4 separate regions of the Homo sapiens genome follow, and regions 1, 3 and 4 are each reported to be linked to region 2. The links are microRNA targets in miRTarBase. Many come from high-throughput screens and were not tested one by one. Region 2 holds a microRNA gene; each other region holds the end of a gene's coding sequence.

Evidence for each region. The annotated mature microRNA hsa-miR-6873-3p reads UUCUCUCUGUCUUUCUCUCUCAG and lies in region 2 at 3,105-3,127, opposite strand. An mRNA with a match to its seed (bases 2 to 7 or 8) in the 3' UTR can be bound and repressed. Matches are read on the target gene's strand: a 7mer-m8 pairs with bases 2 to 8, a 7mer-A1 pairs with bases 2 to 7 and ends in A, and an 8mer does both.
Region 1: miRTarBase lists WDR59 as a target of hsa-miR-6873-3p. Seed matches in the 3' UTR shown: 8mer at 2,460-2,467, 7mer-m8 at 1,440-1,446, 7mer-m8 at 1,438-1,444, 7mer-m8 at 1,436-1,442 and 8mer at 613-620.
Region 3: the mRNA of INMT is a reported target of hsa-miR-6873-3p. Seed matches in the 3' UTR shown: 7mer-m8 at 1,796-1,802, 7mer-m8 at 1,794-1,800, 7mer-m8 at 1,792-1,798, 7mer-m8 at 1,790-1,796, 7mer-m8 at 1,717-1,723 and 8mer at 1,714-1,721.
Region 4: the mRNA of DHRS3 is a reported target of hsa-miR-6873-3p. Seed matches in the 3' UTR shown: 7mer-m8 at 2,773-2,779.

Annotation. Positions count from the first base shown.
Region 1 is chr16:74,871,121-74,875,239 of GRCh38, forward strand. It overlaps WDR59 (WD repeat domain 59), which reads right to left. Exons shown (of 26, transcript NM_030581.4): 26 at 242-3,324. The coding sequence ends at 3,089. Among named protein-coding and RNA genes, the nearest start is that of FA2H, 98 kb to the left of the region's middle. RefSeq lists enhancers at 351-899, 3,105-3,830.
Region 2 is chr6:33,284,123-33,288,241 of GRCh38, forward strand. MIR6873 (microRNA 6873) reads right to left here and starts at 3,167; the gene lies at 3,105-3,167. WDR46 (WD repeat domain 46) reads right to left here. Exons shown (of 15, transcript NM_005452.6): 5 at 4,026-4,113; 6 at 3,843-3,904; 7 at 3,492-3,596; 8 at 3,233-3,383; 9 at 2,969-3,104; 10 at 2,673-2,772. RefSeq lists enhancers at 3,110-3,643, 3,644-4,119.
Region 3 is chr7:30,755,039-30,759,157 of GRCh38, reverse strand. INMT (indolethylamine N-methyltransferase) reads right to left here. Exons shown (of 3, transcript NM_006774.5): 3 at 1,556-3,736. The coding sequence ends at 3,307. All of the region lies in intron 2 of INMT-MINDY4 (INMT-MINDY4 readthrough (NMD candidate)), which reads right to left. Among named protein-coding and RNA genes, the nearest start is that of INMT-MINDY4, 5.0 kb to the right of the region's middle.
Region 4 is chr1:12,565,150-12,569,268 of GRCh38, forward strand. DHRS3 (dehydrogenase/reductase 3) reads right to left here. Exons shown (of 6, transcript NM_004753.7): 6 at 2,761-3,275. The coding sequence ends at 3,191. Among named protein-coding and RNA genes, the nearest start is that of MIR6730, 12 kb to the right of the region's middle.

The sequences.
Region 1 (4,119 bases), not on the chromosome of region 2:
TCAAGCGATTCTCCTGCCTCAGCCTCCTGAGTAGCTGGGATTACAGGCAACCGCCACCACACCCGGAAAATTTTTGCATTTTTCGTAAAGACAGGGTTTCGCCATGTTGGCCAGGCTGGTCTTGAACTCCTGACCTCAGGTGATCCACCCACCTCGGCCTCCCAAAGTGCTGGCATTACAGGCGTGAGCCACCCCACTTGGCCTTGTATTGCTCTTAAAAACAAATAAACAAACAAAAGACTCAGGTGCTTGTAATCATCTATTCTGCGGCTGAGAGAATATCGGCCATGGCCCGCAACCAGACAACCAACCTGTTTCCAAACATGAATATTTTAAAATATTAGACTTTTGTTCTGGTAACTTGGAAATTCAAAAGGAATTTCCGTATTGAAGGATGACATTATGTAATATTTTAAACTCGAAATTTCTTCACACCATTAAGGTTTTTCAATTTTGAAAGTCAATGTTCCTCCAACAATAAAACAAGAAAAACATCTCATTCTTGATGGGGACAGATAGGGACAGGTTTTTACACTAACTTGAGCAGTGGGGAACAGGAAAAGATTGCTCTCTGCAAATGGTGTGATTTCACTGAGGAACACAACAGATCCTTTCTCTCTGTGTAAATCAGCCAACCTATTCTGTGATCACCATTACAACAGAATTTGTGTATGCAAATTCCCGGCTGGGCCTTCTCCTGTCATCCTCCCAGCGGCTCCCCCGCCCTGCTCACGCTACTGAGACACTGGCACCTTACCTCAGACCAGAGCCCAGCACTAAACCTCTGGTTCCACTGCACAGGATCTCAGTTCTTTCTTACATCCTGAAGTTTTGTGCCCAGTAACACAGGGGACGAGGTATAAGCTTCATCCAAAACAGTGTTGTGAAAATGTTTTGACTACAACTTTCAGTAAGAAATGAATTTACGCTATGATCCGGTATACACCTGTGCACACATGTGCTGCACACACGTAAACAAGTTACACAAAACATTTTCCTTAGCTATGTATGGTACATTGTGATCATTTTTCTCTTACACCATTTCATTTTTTTAAATGCTGGTTTTCCGCACTAGATCAATGTCACAATCCACTAATGGGTCCTGACCTGGAGTTTGAAACACATGAATATGCAATGCTCTCCCATTATGAGACATGTCCTAGTCCCTAAGCTAATCTACTTGGAACTGTAAAATTCTAAGAAACAGAAATAGATATTTCAGTAGAAATAATAAAAAAGATTTCTTTTCACTGGCACATACAAAATGTGAAGTTGAAAATCATTCTGAAATTAGCCAGGCATGGTGGTGCACACCTGTAGTCCCAGCTACTCGGGAGGCTGAGGTGGGAGGATCACTTGAGCTCAGGTGATAGAGGCTACAGTGAGCTATGATTGCATCACCACTCTCCAGTCTGGGTGACAGAGTGAGACCCTGTCTCTCTCTCTAAAAAAAAAAAAAAAAAATTTAACTTTAAAAAAGAAAATCATTCTGAAGAATTGGTGGACACAGATGTTATAACTACTCAGAACACAGGCAAACACAGGCAGTTTGCGAGGGAGCCTAAAGGAAGAGTGAGGGCACTCACTGGAACCCAGCCCATCTGAACAGAGGCAAGGAAGACTTTGGTTTATTGACAGGGTCTCACTCTGTTGCCCAGGCTGGAGTGCAGCGGTGCAATCAAGGCTCACTGCAGCCTCAACCTCCTGGACTCAAGTGATCCTCCCACCTCGGCCCCTCAAGTAGCTGGGACCACAGGCATGTGCCACCACACCCGGCTATTTTTTTAATTTTTTTTTTCTTTTTTTGAGACAGAGTCTCACTCTTGTCACCCAGGCTGGAGTGCAATGGCATAATCTCAGCTCGCTGCAACCTCTGCTTCCCAAGTTCAAGCGATTCTCCTGTCTCAGCCTCCCCAGTACCTGGGATTACAGGCGCCCGCCACCATGCCCGGCTAATTTTTCTATTTTTAGTAGAGATGGGGTTTCACCATGTTGGCCAGGCTAGTCTCGAACTCCTGACCTCAGGTAATCCTCCCACCTCAGCCTCCCAAAGTGCTGGGATTACAGGCATGAGCCACCGTGCCCGGCCTATTTTTTAAATTTTTTGCAGAGATGGGATCTCCTTATGTTGCCCAGGCTGGTCTCGAACTCCTGAGCTCAGGTGATCCCCTCACTTTTGCCTTCTAAAGTGTGGGATTACAGGCATGAGCCATGGGGCCTGGCCAGGGAGACTTTTCTATCCATGCTGCACGGCAATCTTGTCCTCCTTTTGCTAGAAGAAATAAGACTCTTGGGGCTAGGAAGAACCTTAAATGTCAAATTCCATTTTCTCTTGTCAGATGACAAAAGTAAATCAGCATTTCCTTTAAAAATCGGAGCACTGACTTTGGTCCTATTCAAAATAGCTACCTTCAATTAGAATTAGGGTAAAAAATGATTCACCATAATGTTGTTTAACTTTCTCTCTTTTTTTTTTTTTTCAAATTACTAGAATTTTATTAGCCAAGGGATAGCAGCTGGAGGAGAAATAACAAAAAAATACATCTTAAGAATCCTTAAGTACAGTGCATATTTACAATTTAAGTGTCATATTTTAGAAGGCCACTGTCCATCAGCTCAGTAAATGTACCAGCTTCTAAAGCCATGATGCCATAGGTCCATTTGTTGATGAAATTCCTACCCACTGTCCTCGGGCATCTGACTCTGGTCTCTGCACTGGCATCAAGAGAACGCTGCTCGGTGGTTTAAGGCTAACACCTTACAGGGTAACACTGTAACACTGGCCCTGGAGCCAGGTGCTTTTCTCCATGAAAACTTCCACCTTGGTAGCTCAGCCGACATAGACAACACACAAAGCGCAGCTCTGCACTTCTGTCCTTATCTTCACACAGTGACATCCACACCAGGTGGCCAAACAGAAGAGAAGGCAGAGGCCCACCAAGAGCTGATGCTGCGCAGTCCTTGGGGGATCATCCTCCGGTCTCACTGGGGACGAACCCAGGTTCTGGAGCCTCTCCCCTGACAGACAGCTTGTCACCGGCACTTATGGGTCCTCTGGGATTTCAGACAATACCCAACTTCTGTAGGTTCAGAAAGTGCTTTCAAGCAGGCAGTGGCACCCACACCCGGTGGGACACACCTCCTGGGTCCGAAACCACTCCATCATGTGGCTGGTGTGGCCACCGTGCCCACAGGTCAGGCAGAAATTGGACGATCCCCGCACAGCCACGTGACAGATGGCACACTGGAACGTGAAGCCTTTGCAGATGGCACACTGCGTGCCACGGACCTCACTCCGGCAGTGGCTGCAGTACACGCCGAACTCTGGAAATGGGCAGGGACGGGCAAAACAAGAGGCAGCATGAGTTTAGTTCTGAAAAAGGAAACTGGGGCTTGCCAGGAAGAAGGAAGTCTTCCTCTCAAGACTCTAGCAGATTCTCTTAGACCAGTGGTTTTCATTTTCTGTTTTTTTTATTTTTATTTTTTCTTTTTGAGACAGAGTTTCACTCTTGTCACCCAGGCTCGAGTGCAATGGTGCAATCTTGGCTCACTGCAACCTTCACAGCCCGGATTCAAGTGTCCTGCCTCAGCCTCCCGAGTAGCTGGAATTACAGGCACCTGCCACCACGCCCAGCTAAGTTTGTATTTTTAGTAGAGACGGGGTTTCGCCATGTTGGCCAGGCTGGTCTCGAACTCCTGACCTCAGGTGATCCACCTGCCTTGGCCTCCCAAAGTGCTGGGATTATAGGCGTGAGCCACTGTGCCCAGCCTGTTTTTTTTTGTTTTTTTTACACCAGAACTCCTTCTTCTGAGCCACTGCACCCAGCTGCTGAGTACTGTATTTTCTCAGGGGCTCCGCATGGAAACCCAGTGCCCTACAGCAGGGGGCAGCTGCGTCTGATGCCTCTTCCCACCCCGACGGCTGGCAGGGCCTGGCACGCAGGAGGTGTTGAACAGGTATCAGCTGAAAGAACTGAATGACTCAGCAGTAACACTTCAGCAGAGGGCAGACTGGCTTTACCAACGCCTGCTACTGCCCACTCGCCACTGGCCCAAGTCAGGACACCGGGATGCCGCTCCACCGCCGGGCGGGGACTGGTTCCACTGGGCTACCCTGAG
Region 2 (4,119 bases):
CCTGTAATCCCAGCTACTCAGGAGGCTGAGGCAGGAGAATCGCTTGAACCCCGGGGGGCAGAGGTTGTGGTGAGCTGAGATTGTGCCACTGCACTCCAGCCTGGGTGACAGATCAAGACTCTGTCTCAAAAAAAAAAAAAAAATAGCCACAAGTTTTTATACCTAAAGGATAACGGGAGCACCACACCAGGGCAGGCTCAACGATTCATCCTTTTGTCTCCAGAACCTCAGCGCAGAGCCCTGCCCACAGCAGGTGCCCAGTGAATACCTGATGACAAAAGGAATCAGAGGAAAATACAAATCAGACAGAAAAGCTGTGGAAAATGCAGATACTCCCTCAGGAACAGCAGAAATCCAAAGCAGACACCACCTCCACCCCTCACATCAGCCAGACCTGGAGAGAACGATCATCTTGAATGACAATGATGAACACAGCGCTCCCTATTTTGCTAAGCGCTGTGCTAAACTATATGCCTTAACTCATCTTAATGTCTACAACAGCTTATATGAGGGCTTTAAACCAAGGCTTGGTAAACTACTGCCCATGGGCCAAACCTGGCCCATCATCTAGTTCTGTATAGCCCACAAGCCAAGAATGGTTTTTACATTTTTAAGTGGTTGAAAAAAAATCAAAAGAATATTTTGAGACTGTGAAAACCGTATGAAATTCAAATTCCAATATCCAACAAATAAAGTTTTATTGGAACGGGGCCACACTATTTACTTAATACTGTGGCTGCTTTTGCTCTACAACACACAGCCGAGTGGTCACGACAGCGACTACAGCATCCTGATTTGCACTGCTGCTTTGTACACTACAAGTCACAGTGACACAGTCGTAAGTGCTTCACAGCATTTCAAGCACCTCACATATCACCTATCATTACCTGTGTGAAAAGATGTTTTCAAAGATGAAATACTTGCAATCTCTACAGATCAGCATGAACATGAATATCTACAGTCAAATTTGACCATCTGGAACACTAACTTTGTACATCAATTAGGCAAAATGTTAACCTCAAAAAGAGAAATTCAGTTCTTCCCATTAGTAGATCTGTATTACACAAATATATTTGATTATTATTATTTTTTTTTTCTGAGACCGGGTCTCACTCTGTTGCCCATGCTAGAGTGCAGTGGCATGATCACAGCTCACTGCAGCCTTAACCTCCTGGGCTGAGGTGGGAGGATCACCTCAGCCTCCTGAGTAGCTGGGACTACAGGCATGCACCACCACACCCGGCTAATTTTTCTATCTTCTGTAGAGACAGAGTTTTGCCATGTCATGGGTGACATGGCTTGTTTCGAACTTCTGGGCTCAAGTGATCTGCCCACCTCAGCCTACCAAACTGTTAAGATTACAGGCATGAGCCACTGTGTCCAGTCTCATATTATGTTTTGTTTGTTTGTTTGTTTTTGAGACGGAGTTTTGCTCTTGTTGCCCAGGTTGGAGTGCAATGGCACAGTCTTGGCTCACTGCAACCCCTGCCTCCCAGGTTCAAGCAATTCTCCTGCCTCAGCCTCCCAAGTTGCCGGAATTACAGGCCCCCGCCACGACACCCGGCTAATTTTGTGAATTTTTAGTAGAGACAGAGTTTCGCCATGTTGGCCAGGCTGGTCTCAAACTCCTGACCTCAGGCGATCCACCCGCCTTGGCCTCCAAAGTGCTGGGATTACAGGCGTGAGCCACCGCACCTGGCCATATTACGTTTAATTTTATAACCTAAAAATGTGTGGGCCAGGCGCAGTGGCTCACGCCTGTAATCCCAACACTTTGGGAGGCCGAGGCGGGCAGATCATCTGAGGTCAGGAGTTCAAGACCAGCCTGGCCAACACAGTAAAACCCCGTCTCTACAAAAAAATACAAAATTAGCTGGGCATGATGGCAGGTGCCTGTAATCCCAGCTACTTGGGAGACTGAGGCAGGAGAATCGCTTGAATCTGGGAGGCGGAGGTTGCAGTGAGCCGAGATCACGCCACTGCACTCCAACCTGGGAGACAGAGCAAGACTACGTCTCTCTCAAAAGATTTAAAAAAAAAAAGGTCAGGCGCAGTGGCTCACGCCTATAATCCCAGCACTTTGGGAGGCTGAGGCGGGCAGATCACTTGAGGTCAGGAATTCGAGACCAGCCTGAACAACATGCTGAAACCCTGTCTCTACTAAAAATACAAAAATTAGCCAGGTGTTGTAGCAGGCGCCTGTAGTCCCAGATACTCGAGAGGCCAAGGCAGGAGAATCACTTGAACCTGAGAGGTGGAGGTTGCAGTGAGCTGAGATTGCGCCATTGCACTCCAGCCTGGGTGTCAGAGCGAGACTCCATCTCAAAAAAAAAAGTTGTGATAATTTGTTTTCTCTTGGTATTTAAATGCCTACATGGTACCCTTTGATTTTACCTCTTATCAGCAAATCATAAAATATTTACTATCTGACTCTTTACAGAAAAAGTTTGTGGACCCTTGAAATGGACACTCATATTTCCATTTTCGGGGTCAGGAAACTGTGGCACACAGAGGTTATGAAATATGCCTATACTTGCAAGGCCCATCCGTGGTAACACTGCGATTTAAACCTGGGCATCCTGGCTTTAGACTCTGTGCTCCTAAAGCACACTGCCTTCCACACCTTTCTGCCCACCTATGACTCCTAACACCTCACCCCACCAGTGACTTACGTGCCTGTAGAATCTACTGCCACAGCCCGGACCCCACCACGATGACAGAGAATCTTTGCCAGTGGCTCCTTCATAGCTGGACTCCATAAAGACACAGTACCTGGAAGAGAAGAAGAACCAAAGTTGCTAATACACACCTAAGCCTGAGGTTACTAAACATGGGAAAGATGGGAACTCAAGACCAAGAGATAACAAAAAAGGGAAATAAAAGGGTAACTTTAAGGGACTCATGAAGTACAAATATAGAAGAAAAGCAAGTCAGGATGGTCAGAGTCAAAACTAAGCCAGGTACTGACCATTGCTGTGTCCGAGATGGATGACGGCATTGTAAGGGTTCTGACTCATAACATCGAGCCGCCCAGCTCGAGCATTCAGAGCTGCCACAATCTTCCCCACTGACACATCCAGGTAGGTTAGAAACCCTGTTTCTGACTGAGAGAGAAAGACAGAGAGAATGACCCAGTCCTGATTGCCCTCTGTATTCCCTCTGCTGGGGTCCTAAAGGAGAGGTGGTCATCCCAAGGGCTTCCAACCAGTTCCTGAGCTCCATGGCCACTCACAGCTGTAGCCAGGAGGAAGTGGAAGGGCAGGAACTCAAGCCGTGTTACTCGGTCACAGCGGCGGATACAGTGGAGCTCAATGCCCTGATTGTCATAGATGTGGAGCCAGCGGTTCTGAGCAACAGCAAGCAGTGCCTCAGAATGGAGAAACCTGGGGGAGAGGAAGAGTGGTTCAATTGGGAAATGAGGTCACAGGCTATCATTCAATCAGGAATGGACTATCTCACCCCAACTGACCGCTGACAGTGAGGCCACTGACCGGATGTCCCGCACCGCCTCCATGACGTTGATCTCGCACATAAGCTTCTTTGTTACCCAATCAAGGGCAGCCACATGACCTCGGCGCCCTCCAAAAGCCAGGTGTCTGTTGGAGGTGAGGGGCAGGCAGGGTGTTAAGGCAGGGGACCACCGACTCAGACAACTTGAGGTCTGCCCCACGCCAGCCCCATCTCTCCAGGCGGGCAGACACATGTTGCTGTAGGTGCTTACCCTCACACCCAAGCAAATCGAAGGACCCTCCCCTCATCAGCAACCCAAACATACACTGGGAATGGCTGAAGTGGTTAAGGAAACACATCTTAGTTCAAGAGTCACTAGAATTCAACCTTACCTTCCAGTTCGAGAGTAGTTTAGTCTGTAGGGTCCAAACTGCCGCAGATTCAAGTCAAAGTGCTGGGAAAGAGAAGAGTGAAAAAAAAGAGTGCCCTGCAGTAACGCCTTCTTCTAGCCCCCATTCCTCTATTGTCCTGCACCACCAATCAATCCCTTGGCTCCTTTACCTCCTCAGGCTCACCTTGGCTGCACTTGCAATGTCCACAGCCTCCACAATGTCAGCCTGGCATATCTTTGCTGTGTCTTCCCCATCCTCCCCTTCCAGAAACCTGAAA
Region 3 (4,119 bases), not on the chromosome of region 2:
TCTATGCTAAAAGAGAGCCAAAGGGAAGCAGGGCCCCCTGCCCTTCCAAGCCGGGTGGGGAGACCTGGTGGAATGAGGGTACACAGGGTGAACGAGGAGTCAGAACGCCTGAGTTCTTACTCCAGCTCTGTCACCAGCTTGCTGTGTGTCTCTGGACAAGTCGCTTTCCCTCTTGGGACCTATCGTCCCTGACTACAAAAAAAATGGAGATTTGGCTGGGCATGGTGGCTCACGCCTGTAATCCCAGCACCTTGGGAGGCCGAAGAGGGAGGATCACTTGAGGTCAGAGGTTCAAGACCAGTGTGGCCAACATGGTGAAACCCTGTCTATACTGAAAATAAAAAAATTAGCTGAGTGTGGTGGTGCACGCCTGTAGTCCCAGCGACTTGGGAGGCTGCAGCAAGATAATCGCTTGAACGTGGGAAGCTGAGGTTGCAGTGAGCTGAGATTGCACCACTGCACTCCAGCCTGGGCGATAGAGTGTGACTCTGTCTCAAAACAAACAAACAAAAAACCCGGAGATTAGACTGGGTAATTTTGAAAGACCATCTCAGCCCTGACCCTCTGGGGGAATAACATCAATGGGTCAATTTGTGCAAAACCTTTTACTTTTTAAAGCACAAAAATTTGCTGGGCATGGTGGTGCATGCCTGTAATCCCAGCTACTCAGGAGGCTGAGGCAGGAGAATCACTTGAACCCAGGAGGCGGAGCTTGCAGTGAGCTGAGATCGCACCATTGCACGCCAGCTTGGGCAACAAGAGTGAAACTACACCTTAAAAAAAGCACTTTCACCATCCTGGCTAACACGGTGAAACCCCGTCTCTACTAAAAATACAAAAAATTAGCCGGGCGTGGTGACGGGCACCTGTAGTCCCAGCTACTGGGGAGGTTGAGGCAGGAGAATGGCCTGAACCCGGGAGGCGGAGCTTGCAGTGAGCCGAGATAACGCCACTGCACTCCAGCCTGGGCGACGGAGTGAGACTCTGCCTCAAAAAAAAAAGCACTTCCACATCAATGACTTCCTGCTGTTCTTAGGATGTTCCTGTAGATTATTAGATTAAATCTCATGGATAGGAATACGAGGCCCAGAGAAGTGAAACAATTAGTGGCAGGGCTGAGAGTAGATTCCAGGTCTCCTGGCTCTTATCAAGGTTGCTGTGCCCAGGGTGTACCCACACAAAGGCACAGATTGGGGCTGAGGGAAAAAGGGAGGCTGACAGGTGCTCAGTAGTGTGACCCAATCAGCCTTAAGGAAGGGACATCTTTCTCTAATTGGTCTGCCCAGAAGAGGCACCTTGTTCTCATAGCGCTTCCACAGGGAGATGGAACAGCTTTTCTCAATTAATCAGCCCTGAACACTCCTTTCTGCAATGTGTCCATCTGCAGGAGCACCTCTTCCTAATTTGCACAAAGGCACCTTATGTACGAGGAATACCCTTGATCCCTGGGCTGCTCCTCTTCTCACTTGGTGTCAGGTCCTGGGGTCCAGGTCCAGCCCGTGCTAAAGTCTGAGGGGAGTGGGTAGATGGACAGAAAGAACACTCAGGGCCCATAGGCAGGTGAATATGGTTTTATTCAGCAACAGCTCTCATCAACAGCTTACACTAGCTCTCTCACACTGTCCGCCCTGCCTTGGCTGCTTGAGCCCGTGGCTTCCACACACAGCTGTGCAGCCTGCTCTCCCTTGCCTTCAGGGTCAGCAGCTTAACTTTTTCTCTCTCTGGGCGTGAGCAAGCTGAGCTGTGTCCTGGCTCCTTCCTGTCCATCTGCAAAACGGACAGCTTTGGCTCTCTCTCTCTCTTACTGGGCGCCAGTGTGCCCACCATGTCAAGCCATGTTGAGCTGAGCCGAACCCCAAGAGCCCCTGTACAGCATTAGCAGGACAATTACCTTTTACAGACAACAGTGGCTCAGACCAAGTATGAACTTACACAAACAGGTTATATAACAAGTGGAGGTGTGTGCCTGTGCACCAAACCCACTGAGTCATGCAGGCATGGATCTCTGCCTTGGCCTATTCCTTGACCAAAGCACATCCATGTACCTTACACCTGGGTCTGAAGTAGGGTTGCCAGATGAAATACAGGACACCCAGCTAAATTTGAATTTCAGGTGAACAACAAATCATTGTTTAGATTAAGCATGTTCCATGCAGTTCTGGGGACATACTTAACCTTATAGATTTATTTCATTTATCTAAAATTCAATGAACTGGGGCAGTCTGTATTTGCTAAATCTGCTGACCTTAGTCTAGAGGCAGTGGTATGTTCCAGCTGACTCCAATCAGCTCATGAGAGTCAACTGTAAAATATTTAGGAGATTTATGAGCTGGTTATTAAACCACTGGTGGCTTGAAATCAACCATGGTGGGAGTATTTACACCACAGAAATTGGTGACTACCACACATCAGTGCTTTTCCTTTACAGAGCTGGTTATAGAACATTCCCCCTGGCTGGGTGCGGTGGCTCACGCCTGTAATCCCAGCACTTTGGGAGGCCAAGGTGGGTGGATCACCAGGTCAGGAGATCGAGACCATCCTGGCTAACACGGTGAAACCCCATCTCTACTAAAAATACAAAAATTAGCCGGGCATGGTGGCGCGTGCCTGTAGTCCCAGCTACACGGGAGGCTGAGGCAGGAGAATGGCGTGAACCCGGGAGGCGGAGCTTGCAGTGAGTCGAGATCGCGCCACTGCACTCCAGCCTGGGCGACAGAGCGAAACTCCGTCTCAAATAAAAAAAAAAAAAAAAAAATTAGCTGGGTGTGGTGGCGAGCTCCTGTAGTCCCAGCTACTCGGGAGGCTGAGGCAGGAGAATGGCGTCAACCCAGGACGCAGAGCTTGCAGTGAGCCGAGATCGTGCCATTGCACTCTAGCCTGGGTGACAGAGCCAGACTCCGTCTCAAAAAAAAAAAAAAAATTCCCCAATATACCACTGTCCAGAGGTTTCCTTGTCCTTAACATATTAGGTAGACTCAGAGGTTTCCTTGTCCTTAACATATTAGGTAGACTCTAAAACCACGTCCCTGGGTGCTCCACAGTCACACAGGAGTCAGATCGCATCTAAGATAGCTGTAAGGCTTAGTATATTAGAAAATGGAAAATTCCACTCCTAGGATCCTAGAATGAGGAATGTTGGAAACTTAGAATTCTAAAACAAGGATGTTAGAATCTCAGAATTTCAGAAGATGGAATGTTAGTGTTGAAATCAGAGACTGTTAGACAGTATCCATTCCTCACCCCTCTCTAGCATACAGATGGCCAAGGCCTCACAGCCTGACCAGACCTCTGGCTGGCCCTCCTGGCTCAGGGCCCAGGCTTCTTGCGAGCCACAATGAAGCAGACCCCATTGTTGGCAGCATTGGTGACAGAGTAGCTCTGGGGACTGTGTAGGAGCTGTTCAATGTCAAAGCCAGCATCCAGGACAGCCTGCTCCACCTCCTCTTTCTCCAGGGCCACGCAGGAAAATTCACGCTTCCCCACCATGTAGGACGGGAGCCGAAGCGTGACAGTGGTCACCAGGTGGCCACCCGGCTTGAGCAGTGAGGCAAGGTTGCACAGGGCAGCGCGGTAGGCATCAAGGCTACAGCAGGCACACTCCATGGCCAGCAGGGTGAGCACACAGTCGGCGAGAGGCAACACAGCCGGGGCCAGCGGGTTGCCCAGGTGGACATCGCACTTGAGCACCCGCTTCACCGCTGCCCGCAGCTTCTCCTCCTTCTCCTCCCATCGGCCGCTGCAGAGAGAGAGAGGGAGTCGGGGAGGCCCTTTGAGGTTCTGAAGGGAACTCTCAGTCCACTGTGACCAGCAGATGGAGATGATCTCTGGATCCCCAAAGGATTGCTGTCCCTGAGTCCCTGTGTGACCTGACAGCAGGCTCTTCTTCAATCTGAGCCTCAGTTTCTCCCAAAGAAAAATGGTTAGGGAGAATGGCTAGAACAATTATAGGAAACTTTCTCTCTCTGATTCCATGTGAGCCCCCTTCCCTTAATCCCCAGGATGGACAAAGCCACCCCAAGCACAGAGAGGGCAGTTAACAAACATTATTGGATGGATGGATGAATGAATTAATGAATTTACTACAGATAATGTATGAATATAGCTATCTTAAAAATATAA
Region 4 (4,119 bases), not on the chromosome of region 2:
AGCATGGGGCTTGGGTCTGCTGCCTCCCTGGGCTGGATCCCTACCTCCAATCTGGTTTTCCTTGGGGATGGGGAGGAACCCTAAGCATGGCAATGAGGTTATTTCCCAGGACCCAAGTCCTCTTCCCAGGGTTGGCCTGCCCCATCCTGCCCCTTGGGGGTTTGGCACTTGTCACTCTTCTTTGCATGGCCAAGCTAAGGACAGAATTAGCTCTCCACGCTCACTCTCAAGGCTCTCTGAGTGCTAAACCATCTGGGAGAGGGACCAGAATGGGGCCTCCTGGGATTCTGCCCAGTGCTTTTTCTTTTGGTTCCTCTGGGAAAAGATCCAGAAAAAGACTGAAAGCTCCTGGCTGAGAGGGAGGGGGTGGGGTGGGACCAGGCCCTGCCCTTCTGAGCCCCTGGGGCTCTGGGACGCCAGGGTCCCACTCTGCTAACACAGCGATTGGTTCTCAATGCAACTGGGGAGGGCTGGCGGGGCTTGCAACTCCCAGAGTCCAATCAGACTTTAGGGATCCTTGTTGCACTCCTTTGGGAAGTCAAGGCAGAAGGGTTGCTTAAGCCAGGAATTCCAGACTAGCCTGGGCAACATAGCGAGACCCTATCTTTACAAAAAAATGATGAAGTGAGCCAGGCGTGGTGGCACATGCCTGTAATCTCAGCTACTCGAGAGGCTGAGGTGGGAGGATTGCTTGAGCCTGGGAGGTGGAGGCTGCAGTGGCCATGATCGGGCCACTGCACTCCAGCCTGGGCAACAGAGTGAGGACCTAAATAAGTTTAGCGTGAGATGAACACTGACAGTTGCCTCTTTAGGGCTCTGCTTAGCACCTCCTGTGCCCTCCCAAAAGTCACTGTGTCCTTGGGCTTGCAGTTGGAAGCCATACAGCTGCTTCCCTCTGTCCTCAACCTATATTTTAATTTTTGCTCATGATGTCTTCTTCCCTGGCATGGCAGAGCCTGGTTCAGAACTAACGACTACTCCTCCACGCGGGATTGTATTTCCTGCTATGTTAATAGCGGCTCCACCACGTGCCCTGTTCCAGCTAATGAAATGTGAGCAGAAGTGACAGTGTTGTTTCCAGGTGGAAACTTCAAGAGCCAGTGCACAGTTCACCAGGTATGTCTACCCTGTGCCATAAGACATCCTCCCTGAGGCCCCCTGGTCAGCCTGAGTTTCAGAGCGAAGATGACACGGAGCACACCTGTAGCCATTCTTGAAGGACTAGTAGCAGTAATAAGGCAGAAACCTTCATTGTTGGAAGCCACTGAGATTTGGGCGTCACATTCTGGCTGCGCCACATCAAGGCTGTTGGAAGTCTCCAGAGCGGTCTCGGAGTTGTGTTTTTTTGGTCTTCAGCTGCTGCCAAGTGGCATGGATAATGAAGAGTTAAAATGTTATGCCTGGGGACTGACCTCCATTCTAGGTACTCATTCAAGAGTGGCTACAGGCCGGGCGTGGTAGCTCATTCCAGTAATCCCAGCACTTTGGGAGGCTGAGGGAGGAGGATTGCTTGAGCCTAGGGGTTCAAGACCAGCCTGGACAACATAGCAAGACCTCTGTCTTTACGAAAAATAAAAAGAAAACAGTTGGGCGTGGTGGCATGCACCTGTAGTCCCAGCAACTCCGGAGGCTGAGGTGGAGGATTGTTTGAGCCCAGGAGGTTGAGGCTGCAGTGAGCCGTGATTGTGCCATTCCACTCCACACTCCAGCCTGGGTGACAGAGCAAGTTCCCATGTTTAAAAAAAAAAAAAAGAGAAGAAGAAAAAAAGCATGGCTATAATCGTGACTTGGCATTTCTGCACATAGACCAGACTGATGATCACCTGAGCTATGTCTAATATTCTCTAAGCTGGGAGGTTTCAGCCTGAGGTTTGCATGTAGGTTAAGACTTTATGTAACTCTTGGGGAAGCTTCTGGGTTGGGTCAGAGGGCTGTGACCTCCTTCACCTCCCGGGGACCTTGCCTGCTCCCCTCCTGCCACCCTGGCACTCATCTGCAAGAGCTGTGTGGAATGGAGTTTACTTGCTATGAAATGACATGGCCCACTTTCTTCCCCACTGCCCAAGGTGAGGTTTATTAAGCTTGTGGCAGCAGGGAGCGTGCACCCTGGAGGAAGCAGGGGGCATCTCTACTAGGTCATTTTGGCCGTGACTTTGCCCCATTGATGGAACCAGGGCCGATCTCTTCTGCCACTCCAGACCTCCCCCTGCCCCTGTGATCAAATGGGACTCGGTCTGTAGCACCCCTCGGCACTGGCCTTATGGTGAGGAGTTGTCACTGTGTTTCCGGTGACTTGTGATCCTTTCCTACCCAGATTATTGGCTTCTTGTACTAGTGGTTCTTCTCAGCAACGTTCCCCTCTCTGCACCACACACACCCTAGGTAGACAGTGGGTGCTCCATAAACACTGGTTTTGCTCTCCTGAGTTGGTGGCCTGGAGGCTGGTGGTGCCATGGCAGGACAGAGGGCATCTCTAGCTGTGGCCAGCTGTTTGCAGACTGTTTCATAAAGGTCACACCAAGGAGACAAAGCGGCTTCAACCCATGGCTGCTGGGAGGGGCCTGGTGGAGCTGGCGAGGAACCCAGCACCCCTCTCTGCCCCTAGGCCTGGGCTCCACTTTCTCTCCTGATTTCGGCCCCCTTCTCTCCACCCTTGGCAGTTGGGGACCTTGAACTGACCAGTTCTCTCTCAAAGGATGGAGTTTTATGGTTGGGACTGGCTCCCTCCCAACTGCCCACGGAAGATTTGAACAAAGGAAATCACAAAAGCCATCTCTCTTTATTTTTCATTCCTGCCGTTCAACCAGTTTGTGCAAGCTGAGGATGAGTGGGTTTTGGAACGGGAGGCAGAGCATCTGGGGACAGACCCTCCTGGAAATGGTCTATGCACACTGCTGAGGCTGGTTAGACTTGAGAAGCAATTGACAATAAACTCTACAGAACTGGAAATGTTCAAAAGTGTCAAGGTGGCTTCTGGCTGTTTTCCTGCCTCCCTGTGGGGGTCAGTTATACCCATCAGTCCTGTGCAAAGGTCCTGGGACTGGCCCAGGGGCAGCCGGATTCTTCGCTGGGGACAGGAGCTGTCCTGCTCACCCAGCAGAAGCATGCCAATGGACAGGTGCTCGGGTGTGTGCCCAGGTGCTGTGGCCCCCAAACTCCGTGGCTCCTCAAGCATGTCTTCATCCTGTCTCTATGTCCGCCCTTTGAAAGTGTTCATGCAGGTGTAGGTTCCTGAGAATTTGTGGATCTCCTCGAGTGCAGCCTGTGGAAGTATGCTGGAGTAGGAGGAAGAAAAGAAGATAGCGATGGTTAGTGGGGCAGGATCCAGGGGCTGGGTCGCTGGTGGCCATGTGAGACGGGGCAGCAGAGGGCTGGTTCCTGAAAGTGCTCCCCACACCTCCAAGCCACACACCAGTTTCTCCCCAAACCCCCACCCTCCCCAGGGGAAGAGCTTTCAAATAAGTGGATAAGCAGCTGTTAAAAGGGCAGGGGGAGGCTGGGCGCGGTGGCTCATGTCTATAATCCAAGTACTTTGGGAGGCCGAGATGGGCGGATCGCTTGAGCCCAGGAATTCAAGACCAGCCTGGGCAATATGGTGAAACCCTGTCTCTACAAAAATATACAAAAATTAGCTGGGCATGGTGGCATGTGCCTATAGTCCTAGCTACTGGGGAGGCTGAGGTGGGAGGATGGCTTGAACCCAAGAGGTGGAGGTTGAAGTGAGCTGAGATTGTACCGCTGCATTCCAGCCTGGGTGGCAGAGCCAGACCCTGTCTCAAAAATTCTTTTCAGACTGGGCGTGGTGGCTCATGCCTGTAATCCCAGCACTTTGGGAGGCCAAGGTGGGTGGATCACCTCAGGAGTTCGAGAACAGCCTAGCCAACATGGCAAAACCCTGTCTTTACTAAAAATACAAAAATTAGCTGGGCGTGGTGGTGGGCACCTGTAATCCCAGCTACTCGGGAGACTGAGGCAGGAGAATTGCTTGACCTGGGAGGCGGAGGTTTCGGTGGGCCGAGATCGCGCCGTTGCACTCCAGCCTGGGCGACAAGAGTAAAACTCTGTCCCCTCTCTCTCTCTCTCACACACACACACACACACACACACACACACTCTTTT